Homo sapiens: one gene and its partners. The protein of the gene in region 3 interacts with the protein of the main gene of each other region in a biochemical or structural test. Each region holds a gene or a part of one and is shown on either strand. Other genes may lie near its edges.

Evidence for each region.
Region 1: the proteins of ARHGEF11 (region 3) and TMIGD1 interact in a test that uses a peptide from one of them, tested with the Homo sapiens proteins (one large-scale study listed by IntAct).
Region 2: the proteins of ARHGEF11 (region 3) and PRLHR interact in a test that uses a peptide from one of them, tested with the Homo sapiens proteins (one large-scale study listed by IntAct).
Region 4: the proteins of ARHGEF11 (region 3) and LPXN interact in a test that uses a peptide from one of them, tested with the Homo sapiens proteins (one large-scale study listed by IntAct).
Region 5: the proteins of ARHGEF11 (region 3) and TRPC5 interact in a test that uses a peptide from one of them, tested with the Homo sapiens proteins (one large-scale study listed by IntAct).
Region 6: the proteins of ARHGEF11 (region 3) and KCNJ18 interact in a test that uses a peptide from one of them, tested with the Homo sapiens proteins (one large-scale study listed by IntAct).
Region 7: the proteins of ARHGEF11 (region 3) and EGLN1 interact in a test that uses a peptide from one of them, tested with the Homo sapiens proteins (one large-scale study listed by IntAct).

What each region holds. Positions count from the first base shown.
Region 1 is NC_000017.11:30,327,558-30,331,057, reverse strand, and holds part of TMIGD1 (transmembrane and immunoglobulin domain-containing protein 1 isoform 1 precursor), read left to right. Parts: intron 1-1,528; coding exon 1,529-1,807; intron 1,808-3,500. UniProt on the Homo sapiens protein: May control cell-cell adhesion, cell migration and proliferation, cell morphology, and protects renal epithelial cells from oxidative cell injury to promote cell survival.
Region 2 is NC_000010.11:118,589,497-118,592,131, forward strand, and holds the end of PRLHR (prolactin-releasing peptide receptor), read right to left. Parts: 3' UTR 501-2,635; downstream 1-500. UniProt on the Homo sapiens protein: Receptor for prolactin-releasing peptide (PrRP). Implicated in lactation, regulation of food intake and pain-signal processing.
Region 3 is NC_000001.11:157,039,243-157,042,742, forward strand, and holds part of ARHGEF11 (rho guanine nucleotide exchange factor 11), read right to left. Parts: intron 1-3,500. UniProt on the Homo sapiens protein: May play a role in the regulation of RhoA GTPase by guanine nucleotide-binding alpha-12 (GNA12) and alpha-13 (GNA13). Acts as guanine nucleotide exchange factor (GEF) for RhoA GTPase and may act as GTPase-activating protein (GAP) for GNA12 and GNA13.
Region 4 is NC_000011.10:58,565,857-58,569,356, reverse strand, and holds part of LPXN (leupaxin), read left to right. Parts: intron 1-3,500. UniProt on the Homo sapiens protein: Transcriptional coactivator for androgen receptor (AR) and serum response factor (SRF). Contributes to the regulation of cell adhesion, spreading and cell migration and acts as a negative regulator in integrin-mediated cell adhesion events.
Region 5 is NC_000023.11:112,079,977-112,084,091, reverse strand, and holds the start of TRPC5 (short transient receptor potential channel 5), read left to right. Parts: upstream 1-1,315; 5' UTR 1,316-2,213; intron 2,214-4,115. UniProt on the Homo sapiens protein: Forms a receptor-activated non-selective calcium permeant cation channel. Mediates calcium-dependent phosphatidylserine externalization and apoptosis in neurons via its association with PLSCR1.
Region 6 is NC_000017.11:21,702,523-21,705,112, forward strand, and holds the end of KCNJ18 (inward rectifier potassium channel 18), read left to right. Parts: intron 1-208; coding exon of another isoform or gene 209-264; coding exon 265-1,566; 3' UTR 1,567-2,090; downstream 2,091-2,590. UniProt on the Homo sapiens protein: Inward rectifier potassium channels are characterized by a greater tendency to allow potassium to flow into the cell rather than out of it.
Region 7 is NC_000001.11:231,363,288-231,366,787, reverse strand, and holds the end of EGLN1 (egl nine homolog 1), read left to right. Parts: intron 1-312; coding exon 313-377; 3' UTR 378-3,032; downstream 3,033-3,500. UniProt on the Homo sapiens protein: Cellular oxygen sensor that catalyzes, under normoxic conditions, the post-translational formation of 4-hydroxyproline in hypoxia-inducible factor (HIF) alpha proteins.

The DNA of each region.
Region 1 (3,500 bases), on a different chromosome or scaffold from region 3:
ATGCCTGGCTAATTTTTTTGTATTTTTAGTAGAGACAGGGTTTCACTATGTTGGCCAGGCTGGTCTCAAACTTTTGACCTCAGGTGATCCGTCCGCCTCAGCCTCCCAAAGTGTGGGATTACAGGCATGAGCCACCATGCCCGGCCAGCTTAAGTGTTTTAAAAGGAAGGTTAATGTGTTTACAGAACATATTAACAAATGTTATCTGGGGTACAGGTTTATGACAGATAAAGTTCTTTTTTAGCTTTTGTTACTTGCTTCTGAATCAGAAAAATAAAAACCGAAATTCAGGTGTATTACTATGCAATGAATAGGTTTCTAAAAGTCAGAGCTGAAAAACAAAACAAAACAAAAAAAACCTGGTATGTATCCTGATCACCCAACCCACAAAGACTGGTCTACCACACAAACCTCAACTACTTAAACATCTTTTTATTTTTCTTCACTGCCAAAACAATATTAAAACATTATAGATGCAAGACCCAATTTGTCCATAATCCTATCATTTAAGCAGAAAATGTTTTCAAATCAGTTCTTACTCATCTGCATGTGCAATTTTGATACATTTGTAGTAATTATTAGAGCTTTAATTTATATTCTGCCTTTTTGCCTAAAGTTTATACCTTAAATATTTTTCCATTTCATTCCCTTGCTTTCCCACTTTCAATCCCTTCAAGTAAACAAATTAAATATGGTATGTGTATATGTATATACATATATGCATGCGTGTGTGTGTATTCAATATATATGGGTTTTTTCCTGTCTTTTTTCCATGAAAAAATACTTCCATGTATACACACATACACACATATGTGTATGATCATTCTGTATGTATTGATTTCTAACCTGATGCTTCTCAAATCACCGGGGGTCGGGGGGTGGGGTGCCTTTAAACAACACAATGCCCAGATTGCACTCATGTCAACTAATCAGATGTCTGGGGATGAGAATCAGGCATCAGTACTTTTTTTTGGGGGCAAGGTCTTGCTCTATCACCCAGACTGGAGTTCAATGGTGCGATCTTGGCTCACTGCAACCTCCACCTCCTGGGCTCAAGCGAGTCTCCCACCTTATCCTCCCAAGTAGCTAAAAGTATGGGTGCACACCACCATGCCTGGCTAATGTTTTTTTTTTTATTTTTTTATTTTTTGTAGAGACGGAGTCTCACTATGTTACCCAGGCTGATCTTGAACTCCTGAGCTCAAGCGATCCTCCCGCCTCTACCTCCCAAAGCCCTGGGATTATAGGCACAGCACCCAGCTACATCAGTACTTTTTAAAAGATCCCCTGGTGATTCCAATGTGCACAAAAATTTGATGACCACATTTTAATCTTTTTCTTTTTCAGTTAACAATACATTATGAATATTTTTCATTATAAAATCATATAGATCAATATGACTATTTTTAATCGTTGAGAGTTTATTTTGTTCTACTGATGTAACATAACTTATTTAACCAATCCCCTGTTCATGAGCATTAAGGTTGTTTACTCTGTATATCTAAATAGTTTCTCCCTATACTCCCAGGTTCTGTTTTAACTGTGAATGGTAAAACTGAGAACTATATCCTGGATACTACACCTGGCTCCCAAGCATCTCTGATATGTGCTGTTCAAAACCACACCAGAGAGGAAGAACTGCTCTGGTACCGAGAGGAGGGGAGAGTGGATTTGAAATCTGGAAACAAAATCAATTCCAGCTCTGTCTGTGTCTCTTCCATCAGTGAAAATGACAACGGAATCAGCTTTACCTGCAGGCTGGGGAGGGATCAGTCCGTGTCCGTTTCGGTGGTGCTGAATGTTACTTGTGAGTGAGGGGAAAAGAAACAGCTAGTGGGTCTGTAATGTCTGTAACACATGAAGTGGTAGTTGAAATCTAGGTCTTGGTATTGCCAAATTGCCCAATTTATGCTCCTACCACAAAGTATGAGAGTACCTATTTCCCCTCACCCTCATGAGCACTGAGTATCGCCAAACTCTGAGAATTTGCCAGCCTCCTTTGAAATTTTCTTTTCCTTTTCTTTTTTTTCTTTTCTCTTTTCTTTTCTTTTTTCTTTTTCTTTTTTCTTTCTTTCTTTTTTTTTTTTTTGAGACAGAGTCTCGCTCTGTTGCCCAGGCTGGAGTGCAGTTCAGTGGCGCAATCTCGGCTCACTGCAACCTCCACCTCCCGGGTTCAAGCGATTCTCCTGCCTCAGCCTCCTGGGTAGCTGGGACTGCAGGTGCCCACTACCATGCCCAGCTAATTTTTAATTTTTGTATTTTTAGTAGAGACGGGGGGTTCACCATGTTGGCCAGGCTGGTCTCAAGCTCCTAACCTCGAGTGAACCGCCTACCTCAGCCTCTCAAACTGCTGGGATTACAGGTGTGAGCCACTGCACCCAGCCTGTTTTCATTTTTTAAATTAAGAATGAGGGTGTTCACCTTTGTGTAAACATAATGGTCTTTTTTTTGTTTGTTTCCATGAAATGCCTGCTTGTATCCTTAACTCATTTTTTTCCGTTGGGTTTTATGCTTTTTTCTCATTAATCTGTACAAGGGCTTTGTAGATTAAGGAAATTAGTCCTTTGTCATTTTGAATTGTAAGTATTTCTCCTATTTGTTTTTGAAAATTTTTATTGTTCTTTTTTGCCATATTGAAATTTTAAATGTTTATATATTTAAAGCTTCAAGTCTTTTCCTTTGTAGTTCCTAGCTTTTGTGTTCTGCTTAGACAGATTTTCATGGCCTGGCACAGTGGCTCATGTGTGTAATCCCAACACTTTGGGAGGCAGAGGCAAATGGATCACTTAAGATCAGGAGTTCGAGACCAGCCTGACCAACAATGGTGAAACCTGGCCTCTACTAAAAATACAAAAATTGGCCAGGTGCGGTGGTAGGCACCTGTAATCTCAGCTACTCAGGAGGCTGAGGCAGGAGAATTGCTTGAACTCAAGAAGCAGAGGTTGCAATGAGCTGAGATGCCACCACTGCACTCCAGCCTGGGCAACAGTGTGAGACCCATCTCAAAAAAAAAAAAAAAAGATTTTCATTAGGGAATCTTTAAACATCACCTTAAAATCAAAAAAGGTGAAGCTTTTCAATGATTGGGTTCCAGGTATTGGTAACCCATTGGTAGAACTGTATAGGCTTAGGGGACTGTCAAGTGATACAATGTAGATGATCACATGGGTTGTTGGGTGAAAAGCTGGTTCTGCATGAGAATGGTGTGGATGGTATGGCAATGGGTGAGGTATAATGATGCAGTATGATTTGGTAGAAAGACCCTATCTCTACAAACATAACATAGTGAGACCCTATTTCTACCAAAAAAAAAAATAAGGTGTGTTTTTAATTAGCTGGGCATGGTGGCACACATCTGTAGCCCCAGCTGCTCGGGAGGCTGAGGCTACAGGATCTTCTGAGCCCAGAAGTTTGAGGCTTCAGCGAGCTGTGATTGCGCCACTGCATTTCAACCTGGGCAACAGAGTGAGACCCTGTCTCAAAAAAAATAAAATAAAATA
Region 2 (2,635 bases), on a different chromosome or scaffold from region 3:
TTTTTGAGTGGTATTTTAGGTGTACTGAAAAATCTTTTTTATGACTCCATCATGAACATTTTAGAAACCTCGTGATTTTGCTTATAGACCCATATGTGGGATGTTGTTAGACCTTCCCAAATTATGTGTGAGAAATGGGTGATAAAATGCTAACATTTAAATAACTCTCCAATATATGATGGTATAGAAATTAGGCATGAAGTTCTCTACTCTCATTTTGATGGACCCGTGGATTTAGGCATATGCAGTCTTGGGGAGTAGAGAGCTTGGTGCCATATATTTAAATGCTGGCATTACTGAGGTTGGGGGCAGGGGGTCACAGAAGACCCAAAATGAACAGTTCATCTCTGGAATAAGGTGGAGTTGACAAATCTAGGTTGAATAGCATGTTTTCCTTGACATGATTTATCCTTGCTTTGACTCTGGCTATCCTGAGGTTGTGTAGTTACCCCATATGTATAACTGGCTTGGTTTATTAATCCTGTGGCTGAAGACTGTGCAACTGATTTAGTATTTATTGAGCTCCCACAACATGCCAAACACAGTATAAACCCCAGCATGTAGAGCTTCACATGTGATTCAGCAACACATGCATTTTACACACATAGCAAAGACATCAACGCATGAAGGTAAATCAATCAAGAACCTGCCTTGGGAAACAAAGGTGCTCCTGACCTCTCGTCTGTGAGGGACAGGCCCTGTGTTCACTCCCAGATCTAGCCACACTCTTGAGGTTAGTTTTGTGCCTTGCATTTGAAAGACTAACAGATGTTCAGGAATGCAAACCACAGGACAGAGGTCGTGGGTGAGCCTACCTGAGAAAATAAACCTGGAACTTAGCTATCCCAGTAAAACAGCAGATTGAAAATTCACAAGGACAAAAAATCAGACGGTTATAGGAACTGGAATATCCTTACCTTAGCATCTCTCACAATTGCTATTTCCAGGTAGCTGTTGGAGCATGCATTGAAACACTCTTCTGCCAGTTTAATGAGATAAATCTATTGATTGGCTGCCAAAAGTGTGACCTGGTGACAAAGCTTGCAAAGAGGATTACAGAACCTCCCATCAGCCTTGAGAAGGGCTGCTGCCAAGTACCAAGTTGGCTCAGTTCCCAGCCTGACTGCCTGTATTACTCCTTGCAGGAAGAGGACTGTGTATACATCTTAGATGCTTGATATTAACCAAAATGAATTATTAAATAAAATTTTCTACCTACAGTCCTACGCAGTTCTCTCTGGGACTCACCTCTGATTTTTTTGAAATTCGGTTTGATTTATAAACTAGTCCACAACACATTTCAGATGTTGTAAGAATTAATTGCTGTTCCGTTGCTGATTTTCATAATATGTAAAGATGTTTATAAGCACAATCTAATTCTCCAACCTCTTTAAGCTCTTTATAAAGTCCATGTAAGTGTTTCAAACTTAAGTTGTAGGCATGACAGAAACCAGTGGCAGCTTTTCTAGTAATTAATGGAGATGCTTGTTTTTCATAGTTGATATAAACTTAAGCTAATCAAGGAGCACTTTTTCTAACACCCTGACAACCAGGATTTAAAATAATTCATGGTATGTAAATTTGTTTTTTGTTGTTTTTTGTTGTTTTTGTTTTTTTTGTTTTTTTGAGACTAGATTTTGCTCTGTCACTGAGACTGGAGTGCAGTGGTGTAATGATAGCTCACTGCAGCCCAGTGATCCTCCCAGGCTCAAGTGATCCTCCTGCCTTTGTGTCCCAAGTAGCTGGGACCACAGGTGTGCACCACCACGTCCGGCTATTTTTTGTAGAGATGGAGTTTTGCCATATTTCCCAGGCTGGTCTTGAACTCCTGGGCTCAAGCAATTCTCCCTCTTCGGTCTCCCAAAGTTTTGGAATTATAGATGTGAGCCATGGTACCTGGCCATGGTATGTAACTTTATAATACAATTGACCTAAGGTTGAATGATGATATTCCTTCTGAATTGATTGGACTGATACATAAGAAATATGTAAGTAAACTGTTGAACGAATCCCTATATATTCTGATTTCAATAATTTGCCTCTTTGTGATTGAGCTGGTATTGCCTGAAGACTAAAAGAGTATTCTCTAAGTATGGCATGTAACACCGTCAAATTCAGCTCCAAATTATTAACACCTTTGGCAGGTACAACTAAAGCTTCATTCGGATGTTTCTGAGATTCATTAGAAAGAGGATTCCCGCCCCCACCCCCCACCCCGAGATGGAGTCTTGTTCTGTCACCCAGGTTGGAGTACACTGGCACAATCTCAGCTCACTGCAACCTCTGCCTCCCTGGGTTCAAGCAATTCTCCTGCCTCAGCCTCCCGAGTAGCTGGGATTACAGGCGTGCGCCACCACGCCTGGCTAATTTTTGTATTTTAAGTAGAGACAGGGTTTCAACACGTTGGCCAGGCTGGTCTCAAACTCCTGACCTTGTGATCTGCCTGCCTCGGTCCCCCAAAATGCTGGGATTACAGGTGTAAGCCACCATGCCCAGCCCTAGAAAGGATAATTCTTAAGGTGCTTAATCTTGGTTGCACATTAAAATCCCCTGAAGTGCTTTGGAAAATGCTAGTGTCCAGGCACCATCTCAAATCAACTAGACTCTTGGGAGGAGAGCCCAGACATCAATTACA
Region 3 (3,500 bases):
CAAAGCATTCTGGTTTCAGAGGCTGAAAGAACGTAATAGCTAAAAGGAATCAAATCTTAGAGGCTGGCTAGCCTAATTCCCTCATTTTTCCAAATAAGCAAACTGAGGTCGAGGGCAGGTAAGCACCTTTGCAAGGTCATTCACCCAGCTGCTAACAAAGCTGGCTCCATCATCCACGTCTACTAACTCAGATGTTGTGTTCTTTCCTCAGAACTCCAAACCTCCTTTCACAAAAGATCTAACATGACTTTTTATGAAGTTATACTTTTTTCTTTTTGAGACCAGGATCAGCAACTTCTTCAGTACGGTTTACCCCATGGGGCAAAGGAGTGATCTTGCATGCCACTAGCAGGTGTATGCTTGGGTCTTTTATCAATATAGTGATTGACAAAAGAAGGAACACCACAATCCACAGCAAAAAGAGTTTCCAAGCCACGTGATATATCTTTGAGTTAAGCTTAAAAAATAATAAACCAATAAAAATGAATTTTTAAAGGCAATGCTACTATGAAGAGGTGAAACAGATTCAGTCAATATAGATTAAAATAACTCCTCTTACGTTTATAGAACTCAACAGTTAACAAAGCCTTTTCACAAACATCAGATTATCAGAACATTAAAGCAGCAAGAAACACTATACAAACTAGAGTTTCTAAACTCCATTCCACAGAGGCTGTGAGCTTCCAGAACTCCTTTACCTTTATACTAACTAGGAGATTAGCTATGTGCTGTTCACAAAATCTTTTTATTTTTGATGAACTCGTATTGTCATTTAATTTTTCTTATTTCTTGTCTATTAAAAAAGCTAAACAAATACATTAATAAAAGGGCACTCTTTCAGAAATGTTTTTGAGTATCTGAAGTTAAGCTTAGTCTGCTCCTTCTCATAATGGTGATTAATTGCCAAATGTTTCAGCTGCAAATCCATTGTGTCTCTCATCTCACACCCCTAGATGGGAACAAGGGTACATTTTGGAAAAGACTCAGCATTTCCGGGACTTATCATACGTAGCTCTGGATCCCTGTCTCCATTCTGGGAGGCCAACCTTCTAATCTAGGTAGAAACTCAGCTAAATGTCTGGGGACTTCTTGGTCCCAGGAGTCAATAAAGACCAGAAGCCAAGGTGCGAAGAGACCCCTGACAGAGAACAGTTGCTGGGTCTAGATTTATTTTGAATTAGGAAAGTCATACGCTTTTAAGACAAGGAATGGCTGGAGATCACAGAACAAATCCTTTCTATCCCCATCACTAACAGACATTTAAGGTGAGCCAAGGTAGATGAAGTCTCTCTCATTCATCAGAGTTCCTGGGAAGGAGATTCAGTAACCCTTCTCTTCTCACATTCTTCTAGTACCCTATCTATTGGAAAAATACTCCTTCCTCCTGACCCCATGCACTTCTACAACAATAAAGCCAGTTCACTCTGCTTAAATTCTTCAAAATGATATAAAGATTTCAGTCACCTTGTTTTGTTTTGGGATACTTAGCTCAGAAAGTTGTGCACGAAGCTAAATCAAATCTGTGAATTTACCATCTATAATTTATATAGAGTTTACAGTTTAGAAAACAATTTGAAATACATTATCTCGTTTGATTTGCTCCTTTCAATAGGCTTGTGAGAGAGATGAAACAAACATTATAATCCTCAAATGACACACCATATAAAAATGTTTGAGAACTGGATTGTACTTTATAGAAATGAACTACTACTGCTTTACATGAGGAAGCCAGAGGAGGCATGTGACTTCCCCAAGGTCACATAGTTAAGGGGAAAGCCAGGACTCAAACCACAAACTCTTGGCTTAAAGTACTTTGGTTTGATCCTCACATGAACTAACTTTGGGCAGAGGAAAGATGTTTCATGGATGCAAACCCCTAACCCTCCTGTCCATCTCAAAAACATTTGCCATGGGGGAACCAGGCTAACAGATATAGATGGCTTAGCAAAACTCATGACCACTCCTGTAAAAATAATTTAGTATCATTATCTCTGTTTGCAATAGCAAACACATTTTTAGAAACTCTTGAAAGGAATATATATTAATGGGCAGTAAGTTGCCCATGGACAAAAACTGAAAGGGACATGAACAGCTACACTTTAGCCCATCTTTCAGTAACAACTGATTAACACTGAAAGATAAAGAATAGTTGCAAATACTTTATGCTTTCTATGGACCCAGGAGTCACTCTTGAACAGGGTGCTACAGGAGATGAAAGACTGCCAAGTAAATATTCCAAAATTTTCTTACTCTCAGCTACAATCTCTTTCCAAATACATAGTCCTTTATTATGTCATTTATTTTCTAGAAAATACACATTACCTAGGAAACCTTCTCTAATTGACCTTATTTGACTACATTTGAAATTAACACGTGAATGTTGAAACAACCCGCAATGAAATAATTTGTACTTGCTGATCTGTTCATTCACTCTAACATTCATTTGTCAAACATTTCTTGAGTACTCACCTCATGCAAGACACTAAGCTAGGCACACAGGATTTCATACAGGCAAACCAAACTGTCCCTGCTTGTGAGGGGCTTACAGTCTGGTGTTGCTTTATGTGGTCTTCAAGAGTCTTACGTGTTTCCCAGTCCCCCAGTTGCATGCTCTCTCTGTGAGCAAGTACTGTACACCTTAATTTTCTAAAACTCTCCTATAGCACCTTACACTAGGCTCTCTACACAGCAAACTGATAAACTGAAAGAATACTAGACTCCATAATCCGCAGCGTATTATTCCTTTCAGTGTGATTTAAATCTGTAAATTATTTAAAATCCATAGAGTCTTGAGGCTGATGTTGCCCAAAGTTACAATTGAATAAGCCTACAGTTAAGGGAGTAAGATTCAGTGCAGCTAGCTGGGGATGTCTGAAGGGGATCTGAGTCCTACCACTCTTAATGGGGAAGAGAATCAGGCAGGGTGGAGGTGAGGAATACCCTTACCCTGCAAAGCTGCACTATCTTACAAGAGAAAATAGTGCTTTAACTATAGGACTTACAGGTATGAGCCCCAAGACTGAACCCCCAAGGTAGGAGCCCCAAGACAGAAAAGTAGAAGGGAAGACCTTGACTGCTGACGGGCACTTTACCCTACTACCAAAGAGAAAGGAGAAAACGGTGCCCCACACATTCTACAGGACCAGTACAGAAGCCTAGTTAGACATGATGGGGCAATGAAAGAGCTACAGATTCAGACTCAGAAGACCTGTGTTTGAGTCTTTGAGTCCAGATTCTGCCACTAGCCAGGCAAGATGGCACTGGGCAAGCCAGGTAGCCTCTCTGAGCCTCAGTTTCCCCTTCTGTGAAACATGAATAATAACCTCTGATGCTTCTGTCTACCTCACACAGAACCACTGTGAGATTCAAATGAGATATGTTCTACGAAAGCACTTAGGAAACTGTAATGTGCTGGGCAAATCCTGAGATTTTTATCTATGAGGATATCCAAACCCCCAGGAGTGTCTCACATCAACCCAGGAAGGCTCACCGCCTCCTCC
Region 4 (3,500 bases), on a different chromosome or scaffold from region 3:
TTAAAGCTATCAAGTAAAACAGCTATATTTACTCATATATGCATTCTCTTCCTATGGATAAGTCTATATGGACGTACATTATAATTAAAAGGTTGCTTGATGAGAATGGAATTAGTGTAAGATGAATTAAGTAGATGCTCTTCATAGCTGGTAATTTTGTACTATGATATTTTGATTCATCATTGTTCCCTGTATGAAATAGCCAGAAGCACAGACCTGAAATTTGAGCTCAGGGGTAGTTTACGCCCTAACTGTTCTTTTCTCCAGACACATACACAATTTTAACGATACGAATTTATCTCTCTACTAGGGAACTATTGTCTTTGTTCTCAGTGTTAGATTATAGCTGTAGGCTCCTAAGTGGTCTCCTGCCCTTTGCCCCACTGCAGTCTGTTCTCAAGCAGCCAGGGTCACCTTTAAAAACTAAAGTCAGACCCTGTCATTCTTCTACTCAAAACCCCAAAATGACTCCCATCTCATTTGGAGTAAAAGCCATAGTTTCATGTTGATCTTTCTGGGGTGACCATATATCCTGGTTTACCTGAAAGAGTCCTGGGTTTATGCTTGTTTTTCTCACATCCTATTAACTTTACTTTTTACCCCAGATCTTCAATTTTATTTAAAGTTTTCTTATCAGTATTTGCATTAAGTAAGCCACTATGGCTTAACAGACCTCCTTCCAGCTTCTTCCATGGTCTCATCTAGCAGCGTATGAAACACATATTCAGTGAACAGTGCTCTTTTTTTTTTTTTTGAGATGGAGTCTCTTTCTGTCGTGCAGGCTGGAGTGCAGTGGTGCAATCTTGGCTCACTGCCACCTCTGCCTCCCAGGTTCAAGTGATTCTCCTGCCTCAGCCTCCTGAGTATCTGGGACTACAGGCATGCACCACCATGCGCAGCTAATTTTTGTATTTTTAGTAGAGACAGGATTTCACCATGTTGACTAGGCTGGTCTTGTACTCCTGACCTCAGGTGATTTGCCTGCCTCAGCTTCCCAAAGTGCTGGGATTACAAGCACGAGCCACTGTCCCCAGCCAAATTCTGACTTAATTATGGTTAAATGCAAAAGATGGCTAATGATAACTTGTCTTTTTTCTTGATTCTGTTCAGATGAAACCTAGCTAGCAGCAACCTTTCAAGAATTATATGCAGGGTGCTGCCTGTTAAAGCTAAGAGCTCAAGCACAAGTACCTCTTCTGATCTTAGGTGGTAGCAGAAGAATTTCTGAGGCTTTTCCCCCTGCTGGCCACTTTGTGAACCACCACTCATGCCCTCATGTGGTCGTGTGGTGGGTGGCCTGTGAGATGCGTGGAACCTCCTCAGAGTCAGTAGAAAATGGGAGAAATTGTGGCTTAATGTCATACAAATTATGTTTAGGAAATAGAGGCTAAGTAATTTTGCCATAGAGTATAGTGTAACCTAATTGTTTTATTAAAGCAGTTTTGTTATTATTTGTATATGTGAAGCTCTATTTGTTTTATTATATGGTAATGCCTTTTGAATTTTACAATAAACCCTTTCAGCAGTTAGCTCAAAACAAAACCCACATGTTTAATTGTCTCAAGAAAGCTGATAATGAATATGCAACGTGCAGAAAATATTTTTCAATATTTACCATGTACCATGCAGGCAAGTAGAAAGATCACTATCCCTTTGAAAACCAGAAGGTACAAATATGGTGAAGCAGCTTTGGCATCTATTTCCAAAGTTAATAATTTAAGAAGAATATGCCTTAAAATGACTTCAACACGGCAGCTGCAGGAGGCCTATGTACATGTCATTGTGAAGCACACCTTCCCATTAGTATCAAATAACTCATAAATTAATTTTGCTCATTTTCAATTCCAAGTTTTCTTGTACTTGTAAGTAAACTGGTAATAATTAATGAGTGATTTTCCTTTGCAAACCTTCAAATAATGTTTTTTATAATAATTTCCTTAGAGGTCTCAATTCAAAAATGTATTAATTCTGAAATGTTTCAATTTTGTTTTTTATCTAATTCAAACAATCAAAATAAAATATGTGAAAATTTATTTCCTAGTCAAAAAGTGAAACATCTGACATTGTTAATGCCACTGTAAATTTAGTTGAAAAGCTCAACATTGAAGGTAAACTGTTGTTTTTGTTGTAAGAATATGAATACAAATGTTAATAGAGCACAGCATTGTGTTAAAAATGTTCTTACCAAGTTAACAAGCTATGAAGCAGAAATGTACTTGGAATTGGTTGTAATGTGCACAAAATTTGTGACTGCATTCAAACAAGCTGCGGTATTCTGTCAGTCAAAACAGAAACTAAAATTGTCAAAATGTATAAATTATAAATATATATATACACACACACACACACACACACAGATTTTATAAGTAACTGATCTACAAAACTTTTCTGACAGAAGCTGATATTGAACACTACCATGCAAGGAAACATTTCAGAATGACTATATGTATATTCCTGTCTGTGTTGCATGTCATCAATTGGATTTTGGGAATGCCTGAGCCTTTGAAAAACCACTTTGTAAAGCAACCCAAATTTAGATTGCATTATGTTCAAGACCAGTTGGAAATTTTTAATCGATTACTGAATGAATGTAGCATGAAAATTCAGCTTTTGAAGCTTTTAGCAAGTTACAATTATGTAAAATAAGGCTTGCAAAGGAAGAAGCTCAAATTTCTCCCTACAAAAGCGAAGAAGGAGTTGAACAAATCAAAAGATGAAAGCAGATATGGTTTAATTATCTATTTTGACAATTGTGCTTCAGAAAAATCTTGACTTTGATGTATTTTGACTTCTAATTTTATTTGGATAAATTTTTATTCTCTACCAAAATGGAGAAAAATTGTGAAAGTCTATGATTTTGCAGTATCTAGATTTGGTGAAATGTTGAAACAATCACAGATATAGACAACTTGAAAGTTTTATCTTGTAAGAAATTATTGAGCAAAAGTGCTTTGAATGAAGGTAGAAAGACAGCACCTATGACGATATTGGCCTGAAATATTTACATATTTTAATCTAAAAAATGAGAAGATTCTTCATTTAGCAGAACTTACAGGTTCATCAGTATCTAGAGAGGAAATGTGTTCTCAGTTAAAAACATATAGTGAAGCATCAATTAAAGTTGTCCATAATTTCAAATATATTAACCATAAAATGAAGTTTTGAAAAAGATTGCAGTTTTATAAAAAAATAACTGTTTAAATAAAAAACGAAAAAAAACACATGTTCCTGAAAAATGTCCACATCCCAATGCTAGAGACAATAATATCTAAATAACCAATTAAGGTATGTGAATACATATAAAGAATAATTGTCTGTACCATTAAAAATGTTCAGATAATCAATTTTTTGTTGTTGTTGAGACAGAGTGTCACTCTGTTGCCCAGGCTGGAGTTCAGTGGCATGATCTTGGCTCGCTGCAACCTCCGCCTCCTGGGTTCAAGCAATTCTCCTGTCTCAGCCTCCCGAGTAGCTGGGACTACAGGCACCCACCACCATAC
Region 5 (4,115 bases), on a different chromosome or scaffold from region 3:
GCAGAGGGGGTTAAAGAGCAACAGGAAGTACAGTGGAGTTTTCTCAGAGCTAGGGATTGTTCTGAGAATGGGTAGGGAAAGGTTTTCAGGTACCAGCCCGGCGTCCAGAAAGGCAGAGACTCACATGCCCCTTTCCTGAGAGCGCTAGGAAGGGAGATAAAAGACAAAGCCAATATTTGGGGCTGTGCGGCCAGGCCATGAAATGCTGCCAGCTAGTGGACCTATGCGCCTGCAGGTTGCAGGTAGAAGTCTCAGGCTTGTGGTGGGGGTGGGGCTATTTAGCCCCTTCCAGTTGGGCTCAAGAGGGTGGACATTCTGAGCGCCAGGCTATAAGGTGAAAGAAGTGGAGAGGTGCTTCATGTGAAAGGAAGGCGTAAAGATCAAAGAGTGGCCCAAGTGTCCGGTGACACCGCCCCTCTCCCTCCACAACAGATACCACTAAGCAACCTAGCCCCCCGCCCCCATCCTACAATATCACTTTCCCTCCCTGTATCAATCTAGGCTGGATCTTGGGAGATCGACCCTATGGGTGAGAGGGGCACGGATGGGAGAATTAGGTAGCTCCAACTAGATTAATCTAGATCTATCAGGGATCCAAGCCTGCCCCATAGGACCCCAGGTCAGTCCCTGGCGACTCAGCGCTCCGCTGTCTCCCTGTCCTACCAGCCGCCCGCCGCCCTTACTCCCCCAGGTTCAACTCCCCTTCCTCCTGAATGACCTATGGTCGCCGGAGCAGCCTCGCCACCACCGGCCCAGAGCCCAGGCTGACGGGGGTGGGCAAAGGTCACTGCCCAAAGCAGGGGATATTCAGGCCAAGGGGCAAAGAGAGACTCTGCTAGCCATATGCTCCGAGGGACTCCTGTCCCCTCTACCCGCACCCGCGCTTAGCCTCCCACCTCCCCTCCCGTCTCTGCCACCACCCAGGGGAGGGGGAGGTCTGGGGAAGCAAACAAACGAGACAGAAAATTCCGTACCGAGGGGGGAGAGATGAGACGGTGGGACGGGGCAGCGGGGGTTGACTTGGGGCTGCGGCTGCGGCTTCCTTCCACCCCTGGCCGCGGAGCTGCAAAGAAGGCAGGAGCTGCTGCCCCTGCCGCCTGCCCCGTCCTCCCTCTTTCCCTCTCGCCTCCCCGCCTCCCCCGCCCCGCCCCGCCGCCAGGAGATTGAGAGTGGCTTCGGCCCGGGGGCTGGGGGAGGTGAGGGGTGCTTTTGCCTACCACGGTTGTCTCAATCTCTCTCTCTCTCTCTCTCTCTCTTTCTCTCTCTCTCTCTCTCTCTCTCTCTCTCTCTCTCACACACACACACACACACACACACCCCACATCACAACCACGACGGGTTGTCCGCAGCTCGCAGCCACCCCAAAGGGAGGAATAAAGAACAGGAGCAGAGGGAAGCCGGGCGCAGAAAGAAGGGAAAAGGAAGAGCTCAGGGTTGGACATTTTTGGAGACAGGGGTGGGGAGGATAAAGGGAGCGTGCCTCCTTGATTTTCCCCTCCCCACCCCTCTTTGCTTTTCTCTCCCCTTCTCTGTATAGCATATTCCAGAAACGGCAGCAGAAGGGGACAGAAACCTCTAGTGTAGAAAAGGGTTTTGGAGGGGTAGCCAGCGCTCCCGCCAGCCGCTACCTAACAGCTGGAGCTTGAGTGTGCGTGTAAGAGTGTGAATGCGGCTCTCTCTCTTTTTTTCTCTCTCTCTCCCCTCTCTCTCCATCCCTTCCTTCCTCCCTCCTTCTCCCTCTCCTTCACACTACAGTGTCAGCTACCCCTGTCAGTTTCCCCGTGTCAGTTTCTTCCCTAGCTCTTATTGTGTGTGACTGGCTGCGTGAAGGGAGTGGGTGCGCTTGAAGGGGCTCAGGTTGGGTTAGAGAGCTGGGAGAACAGGGTAGGGACATTGGTAGAGCAAAGAGTTTCAGGGCACTGGCGAAGGTGAAAGGTGAGGAGGGCCGATCTGTTACAGGCAAGTTTGGCAATAACTGAGCATCCAAAGGGGAAGCCAAGGTAGGAGCCAGTACTTGCGCTCGTCTTTACACCCCGCCCCTTTCCCTGTGCTCATCCGCCCACCCACCCATCAGCCTAGAGGCCCCGGGCTGTCCCAGTCGGCTGCTGTTTCGCGCCGCAAAAGAGGAGTCCGGCAAGGCGCCGCACCACGCATCCTGGCCGGTGGACATCCAGACGACACAGATTTTATCCGAAAAAACCACTTGGCTCAGGGTAAGTCTACAGGCGGCCGGTGCGGTCCATTTCACTGCCTGAGTGCTGCTGAGGGGCAAGGGGCAGCGAAGTGCGGGTTGAATGAAGATGCTGGGCTGCTGTAGGCGGAGAAGCATTGACTGGCTGGCTGTGGGCTCAGGGTGGTAGGGAGCAGAGGGAGGCCAGCAACAGATTGTTTTGGAAGAGGAAATGCAATGGGGAGAAGCTCCAGGGTTGATAGGACAAGGTGCTGCCTGCGATGACCAAAAACATCCTTTCACTGGGAATATTTTCCTGAACCACAGCTTTGTCCTATCCCTGGACAATGATTTGCTCCATTCTTGGGTAGATTTTAAGATCCGTGGGGAACCTGCTCCCAGGCCTCCTTAAAATCGATTAGTGTGGCCCTCGGACCAAGGATACCTGCCCTTCGTCAAAAGCCACCTTCAGAAATAGAGAGCCAGGAGCCGGATCATGAAGGTTCAGGAACCAGGGTCCCCATTTACCTTCTTTGTCTTGTATCCTTCAAACTTAAGAAATGGCCAGATTTGTTTGCCTGTCTTCCTTAAAGGAACCAAGAAATGCAAATGGAGGGGCATCAGTCAGATCTCTGCTTCAAAGTGGACACCTCCCTCCCTCCCTAGACACACATCGACTCGGACAAATGGTCATGATCATGTCCCACATATGCAGGTACTGAGCTGAATTCACAGATGCTGATCTTTCTCCATGGTCTCTTAGAATGAGACTAGAAGGGCTTTTTCCCTATTACAACCTGGGCTCTTTGGATCGCAGTCATGTACCTGGTGATGGTTAAGTGTTTAGCAAGGTTATTACTCCCTCAGGAAAAGCCTGAAGCGGGGAAACCAGCCTGAAAGATAGAACCTCTGAACTTTACCCGAGTTTATTATAAGAGTAGGAGAGACATAGACTAATTGATAATGCTCTTTTTAGAGATTGTGCATGTTAACCCTTGGCTTCAAATGTGAAATGATTACAACATTGACATGGCACACCCAGACCCACTTTTCTATTGCCATATATTTATCTTCATGGCATTTAACAAGAATGACAGATTTATATATCAGCATTCATAATTGTCTATTGTTGGTGTCATAGGTTTTTTGATGTTTTATTGATGATTTATATTATGTCTCCTTTCCCATAAACTCTTTAAAAACTGAGATATAAATGATGTCACATGGTACCTTTCATCATGTCTTTAAAATCTGCTTATTCTAAATCAAAAGGCATGTTAATATATTTACATAGTACGAAGTTCGTTTCAAAGCAAATATATAGTCTGGGATAAAAGAAACCCACAGGGTCAAGGAGTCTCTGAAGCTCTCTCTGTGAGGTCGAAGGAAGAATTGAATGTCACCTAAAATCCACATTTTGGTCCCTGGAAGATGCTGTTTTCATAAACTTTCACAATATACATAGGGAGAGAGAGAAAATCTGTGTGTGTGTGTGTGTGTGTGTGTGTGTGTGTGTGTGTGTGTGTATGTAGTTTTTCAAGGACCTCAATCAACCCCATACAATCTTGGCTCTGCTTTTGTAACAGAGGGGAGCAGGAGGTGAATTTGTGCTTCCAAAGCACCCAGGTTCGTCTGTTAAACTTTCTATTTATTACTATGTTACCAAAATGCAATGAATTGCCTCTTTCCAACTCAGCAAATAAGAGAAACGGATTCTGCATTAAGTGAAACTGTTTATGTTGCATCAGGCAATTCTTTCTAATGTTCACTGCTGAGAGAGAGCAGAATGAGGATTACTCAAGTAGGATCTGAAAAGGTGCCCATTCTGTTACTTTTTAAAGCAACCATAGTAAGTATTTTCTTAGGTTAAAATTACACTTTCAAATAGATATACTAAAGACCGGGTTGCAGACAGGTAGGAAAGAACTGGCAGCATCATAATTGG
Region 6 (2,590 bases), on a different chromosome or scaffold from region 3:
GTTTTTGGCTGGAGCTGCTGGGGGCCCGAAGGGGGTGGCCACTCGCACTGGGAAGGCGGAGTGGGGAGCTGGCTTAGGCAAGACCAGAGCATGATTGTGGGTCAATCAGGGTGGAAGCGTCCTCCAGTCACGTCTGGGGGCCCTGGGATGGGGGTAGAGGAGCCTGGAGCCACCAGCCCAGCCAGACATGCTGTCCTCTCTGTTCCAGGAGCCGCCCTGCCTGGAGCTAGCCTGGGGGTGAGCCAGGGTCCCCCAACCCCCGGGATGACCGCGGCCAGCCGGGCCAACCCCTACAGCATCGTGTCATTGGAGGAGGACGGGCTGCACCTGGTCACCATGTCGGGCGCCAACGGCTTCGGCAACGGCAAGGTGCACACGCGGCGCAGGTGCCGCAACCGCTTCGTCAAGAAGAATGGCCAGTGCAACATTGCGTTCGCCAACATGGACGAGAAGTCACAGCGCTACCTGGCTGACATGTTCACCACCTGTGTGGACATCCGCTGGCGCTACATGCTGCTCATCTTCTCGCTGGCCTTCCTTGCCTCCTGGCTGCTGTTCGGCGTCATCTTCTGGGTCATCGCGGTGGCACACGGTGACCTGGAGCCGGCTGAGGGCCACGGCCGCACACCCTGTGTGATGCAGGTGCACGGCTTCATGGCGGCCTTCCTCTTCTCCATCGAGACGCAGACCACCATCGGCTACGGGCTGCGCTGTGTGACGGAGGAGTGCCTGGTGGCCGTCTTCATGGTGGTGGCCCAGTCCATCGTGGGCTGCATCATCGACTCCTTCATGATTGGTGCCATCATGGCCAAGATGGCAAGGCCCAAGAAGCGGGCACAGACGCTGCTGTTCAGCCACAACGCCGTGGTGGCCCTGCGTGACGGCAAGCTCTGCCTCATGTGGCGTGTGGGCAACCTGCGCAAGAGCCACATTGTGGAGGCCCATGTGCGCGCGCAGCTCATCAAGCCGCGGGTCACCGAGGAGGGCGAGTACATCCCGCTGGACCAGATCGACATCGATGTGGGCTTCGACAAGGGCCTGGACCGCATCTTTCTGGTGTCGCCCATCACCATCTTGCATGAAATTGACGAGGCCAGCCCGCTCTTCGGCATCAGCCGGCAGGACCTGGAGACGGACGACTTTGAGATCGTGGTCATCCTGGAAGGCATGGTGGAGGCCACAGCCATGACCACCCAGGCCCGCAGCTCCTACCTGGCCAATGAGATCCTGTGGGGTCACCGCTTTGAGCCCGTGCTCTTCGAGGAGAAGAACCAGTACAAGATTGACTACTCGCACTTCCACAAGACCTATGAGGTGCCCTCTACGCCCCGCTGCAGTGCGAAGGATCTGGTAGAGAACAAGTTCCTGCTGCCCAGTGCCAACTCCTTCTGCTATGAGAACGAGCTGGCCTTCCTGAGCCGTGACGAGGAGGATGAGGCGGACGGAGACCAGGACGGCCGAAGCCGGGATGGCCTCAGCCCCCAGGCCAGGCATGACTTTGACAGACTCCAGGCTGGCGGCGGGGTCCTGGAGCAGCGGCCCTACAGACGGGGGTCAGAGATCTGAGCCAACCTTGGCCGACATGCAGCATCCACCCCTGGCCGGGGAGAGGCCCCGCGGTCGCTCAGGGGCCCTGGGTTTGAGCAGAACGGGCCCAGTGCCCTGGGTTGCAGACTCAGTAGCGTTTTAGTCGTTTTATGTTTCTTTGCAAAGGCCTCAGAAGGTTGGCCGGAGAGGGGGCAGCCAGAGCGGCAGCCCCCGGCCTCAGAGGCTATCACAGGCTCAGGGCAAAGAAGTGGCCTCCTGGGGGGCCAGGCCACGGGGGCCAGGGCTTCTGCCTGAAGATGGAGCTGCAGCCTGCGGGGAAGCAGCCCAGCTCGATGGTGGGCCCAGCCTCTGCTGTCCAAGGCTGGCTAGCTGCGGTGCTCCTTGCTGGTTTTTAACTTGGGGAGAAACACCGGGTTTCAGCTTTCTCGACCTTAGCTTGGGTGAGACTGTTTACAAAAAAAAAAAAAACCATGCAATTGGAGAAAAAAATTTTAATTCATAGGGGGCAAAAAGAACAATTAGAATTCCATGGGTCTGCCAGGATGCAGCAGCTGGCTGGAGGCTCCAGAGGGTTCCCCGAGGTGGGACCGGCCTCTCCCCGTGTATGTGGGCACTGCAGTCCCTGGGCAAGCAGGGTGCTCTGGGGCCGCACTTTGTCGAGCTCACGAGCCAGCTAGGCTCTGTTTGTGATAGAAAAATCAAGACCATGTTAATGATTGTAATAAAAGCTTTCTGCTGTCTTTGGGGTGCTGGGTGGGTCTGGGAAGAAAGTGGTTTGAGCTTTTAGAGTTTGCCTTTGTACCTTAGAGATGTGTCTCAGGGCCAGGCATGGGACCTGCCATCGAGGGTTCCTCCTCCCACCCTCGATTTTCCTGTTTTGCTTCTTTCTCCATTTCTGTCCAGGCCTCCGCCCAATTCCACAGTGAGGGGTGGTTAGGAGCCATAGGCCAGGATGCCTCCTTGGGAAGGGAAGTCAGGATCCCAGGCTAGGAGGAAGCTGGCAGCCCCGTCCCCACTGGGCCCACAGTGTGAGTCGTGCGTT
Region 7 (3,500 bases), about 74 Mb from region 3:
TGGCACAAGCTCAGTGTGCTTTCAGAGACACTGAACACTCTGTTGAAGAAACTCAAATGGCTTTTAAAATAAAAAGACAAAATCATTATCTCTGTGTAGAGGATGGTTTTATCCTTGAAGGTTTACTATTTGAAACCTCATCACAATAGAATGCTGAGGGAAGTTTTTGGAAGTACAAGCGTGATAGTTCTCAGATGATGTTTGCAAAGTTGAAATATTGTCCATACTCTTAGGAATTCAGTGGAATGCAGTAGCAGAAGCTCTCTGGTGCTTAGTGAATGAATGAAAATTTTTTTTTTTTTTACCTTGCAGGTGAAAAAGGTGTGAGGGTTGAACTCAATAAACCTTCAGATTCGGTCGGTAAAGACGTCTTCTAGAGCCTTTGATCCAGCAATACCCCACTTCACCTACAATATTGTTAACTATTTGTTAACTTGTGAATACGAATAAATGGGATAAAGAAAAATAGACAACCAGTTCGCATTTTAATAAGGAAACAGAAACAACTTTTTGTGTTGCATCAAACAGAAGATTTTGACTGCTGTGACTTTGTACTGCATGATCAACTTCAAATCTGTGATTGCTTACAGGAGGAAGATAAGCTACTAATTGAAAATGGTTTTTACATCTGGATATGAAATAAGTGCCCTGTGTAGAATTTTTTTCATTCTTATATTTTGCCAGATCTGTTATCTAGCTGAGTTCATTTCATCTCTCCCTTTTTTATATCAAGTTTGAATTTGGGATAATTTTTCTATATTAGGTACAATTTATCTAAACTGAATTGAGAAAAAATTACAGTATTATTCCTCAAAATAACATCAATCTATTTTTGTAAACCTGTTCATACTATTAAATTTTGCCCTAAAAGACCTCTTAATAATGATTGTTGCCAGTGACTGATGATTAATTTTATTTTACTTAAAATAAGAAAAGGAGCACTTTAATTACAACTGAAAAATCAGATTGTTTTGTAGTCCTTCCTTACACTAATTTGAACTGTTAAAGATTGCTGCTTTTTTTTTGACATTGTCAATAACGAAACCTAATTGTAAAACAGTCACCATTTACTACCAATAACTTTTAGTTAATGTTTTACAAGGAAAAAGACACAAGAAGAGTTTAAATTTTTTTGTTTTGTTTTGTTTTTTTGAGACAGTCTTGCTCTGTTACCCAGGCTGGAGGGGAGTGGTGCATTCTTGGCTCACTGCAACCTCCGCCTCCCAGGTTCAAGCAATCCTCCCACCTCAGCCTCCCAACTAGCTGGGACTGCAGGCACACACCACCATGCCTGACTAATTTTTGTATGTTTAGTAGAGACGGGGTTTTGCCATGTTGCCTAGGCTGGGGTTTAAGTTAAATTTTTTAAAAAACTAAAGTGACTGGCACTAAGTGAACTTGAGATTATCCTCAGCTTCAAGTTCCTAAGATAAGGGCTTTCTTAAGCTTTCAGGTGTATGTATCCTCTAGATGTAGACAATAATGTCCCATTTCTAAGTCTTTTCCTTTTGCTTCTCCTTAAATTGATTGTACTTCCAAATTTGCTGTTATGTTTTTTTCCTAATACTGTGATCTATCTGATCTGCAGACAAGAACCTTGTCTCTGTTGAAGAGCATCAAGGGGAGATTATGTACACATTGAAACTGAAGTGTGGTGTTACTGACGGAATGTGCAGTAACTCCTCAGATATCTGTTAAGGCATTTCCCAGATGTGATGCCAGCCTTCTTACCTGTACTGAAAGATGCTTAGCTTAGAAAAAAACAAAACAGATGCAAAATCAGATAATTTTATTTTGTTTCATGGGTTTTCTTATTTACTTTTTAAACAAGGAAGGAATATTAGAAAATCACACAAGGCCTCACATACATGTTATTTAAAGAATGAATTGGGACGGATGTCTTAGACTTCACTTTCCTAGGCTTTTTAGCAAAACCTAAAGGGTGGTATCCATATTTTGCGTGAATTATGGGTGTAAGACCTTGCCCACTTAGGTTTTCTATCTCTGTCCTTGATCTTCTTTGCCAAAATGTGAGTATACAGAAATTTTCTGTATATTTCAACTTAAGACATTTTTAGCATCTGTATAGTTTGTATTCAATTTGAGACCTTTTCTATGGGAAGCTCAGTAATTTTTATTAAAAGATTGCCATTGCTATTCATGTAAAACATGGAAAAAAATTGTGTAGTGAAGCCAACAGTGGACTTAGGATGGGATTGAATGTTCAGTATAGTGATCTCACTTAGGAGAATTTGCAGGAGAAAGTGATAGTTTATTGTTTTTTCCTCGCCCATATTCAGTTTTGTTCTACTTCCTCCCCTTCCTTCCAGATGATAACATCACATCTCTACAGTAAGTGCCTCTGCCAGCCCAACCCAGGAGCGCAAGTTGTCTTTGCCATCTGGTCTATAGTACAGTGCGCGGCGTTAGGCCACAACTCAAAAGCATTATCTTTTTTAGGGTTAGTAGAAATTGTTTTATGTTGATGGGAGGTTTGTTTGATTGTCAAAATGTACAGCCACAGCCTTTTAATTTGGGAGCCCCTGTTGTCATTCAAATGTGTACCTCTACAGTTGTAAAAAGTATTAGATTCTACTATCTGTGGGTTGTGCTTGCCAGACAGGTCTTAAATTGTATATTTTTTGGAAAAGTTTATATACTCTCTTAGGAATCATTGTGAAAAGATCAAGAAATCAGGATGGCCATTTATTTAATATCCATTCATTTCATGTTAGTGGGACTATTAACTTGTCACCAAGCAGGACTCTATTTCAAACAAAATTTAAAACTGTTTGTGGCCTATATGTGTTTAATCCTGGTTAAAGATAAAGCTTCATAATGCTGTTTTTATTCAACACATTAACCAGCTGTAAAACACAGACCTTTATCAAGAGTAGGCAAAGATTTTCAGGATTCATATACAGATAGACTATAAAGTCATGTAATTTGAAAAGCAGTGTTTCATTATGAAAGAGCTCTCAAGTTGCTTGTAAAGCTAATCTAATTAAAAAGATGTATAAATGTTGTTGAAACATTATGGTGGTTATTTCCAGCTGTCTTTTTTGTTTTTCAATCCTTTATCATACATTGGCTTTCCGAATGATCCCTTTCATCAGATAAAGCTTTTCTGGCTTAGTCTAGGACATTTGTTATAACTTTTTGTAAATGATAATGAAGGAAAGAGAACAGTAAACATAGGAGTTCAACAATTTTAGAAACATCCCTGGGGTCATTGGACTGTCTGTGGGATCCATGAAGTCTGTTTGGATTCTCAGCACTTGAATTCTTGCCCTTTTAGTAGGATTTTTAAAATTATTTTAACATTCATAGCTGTTGACAGATCTGTATCACCCCTCTGCTGCAAAAGGAAGTGGGGTTAGGCATTTATCTCTAATTGTCATAGATGTACCATTGTGTATATGCAAGAAGGTTTAATTTGTGTGGTCATAACTAAAATATGAGAGCTCTTATTAAGGTGAGATCAAAATACCTGTTTATAT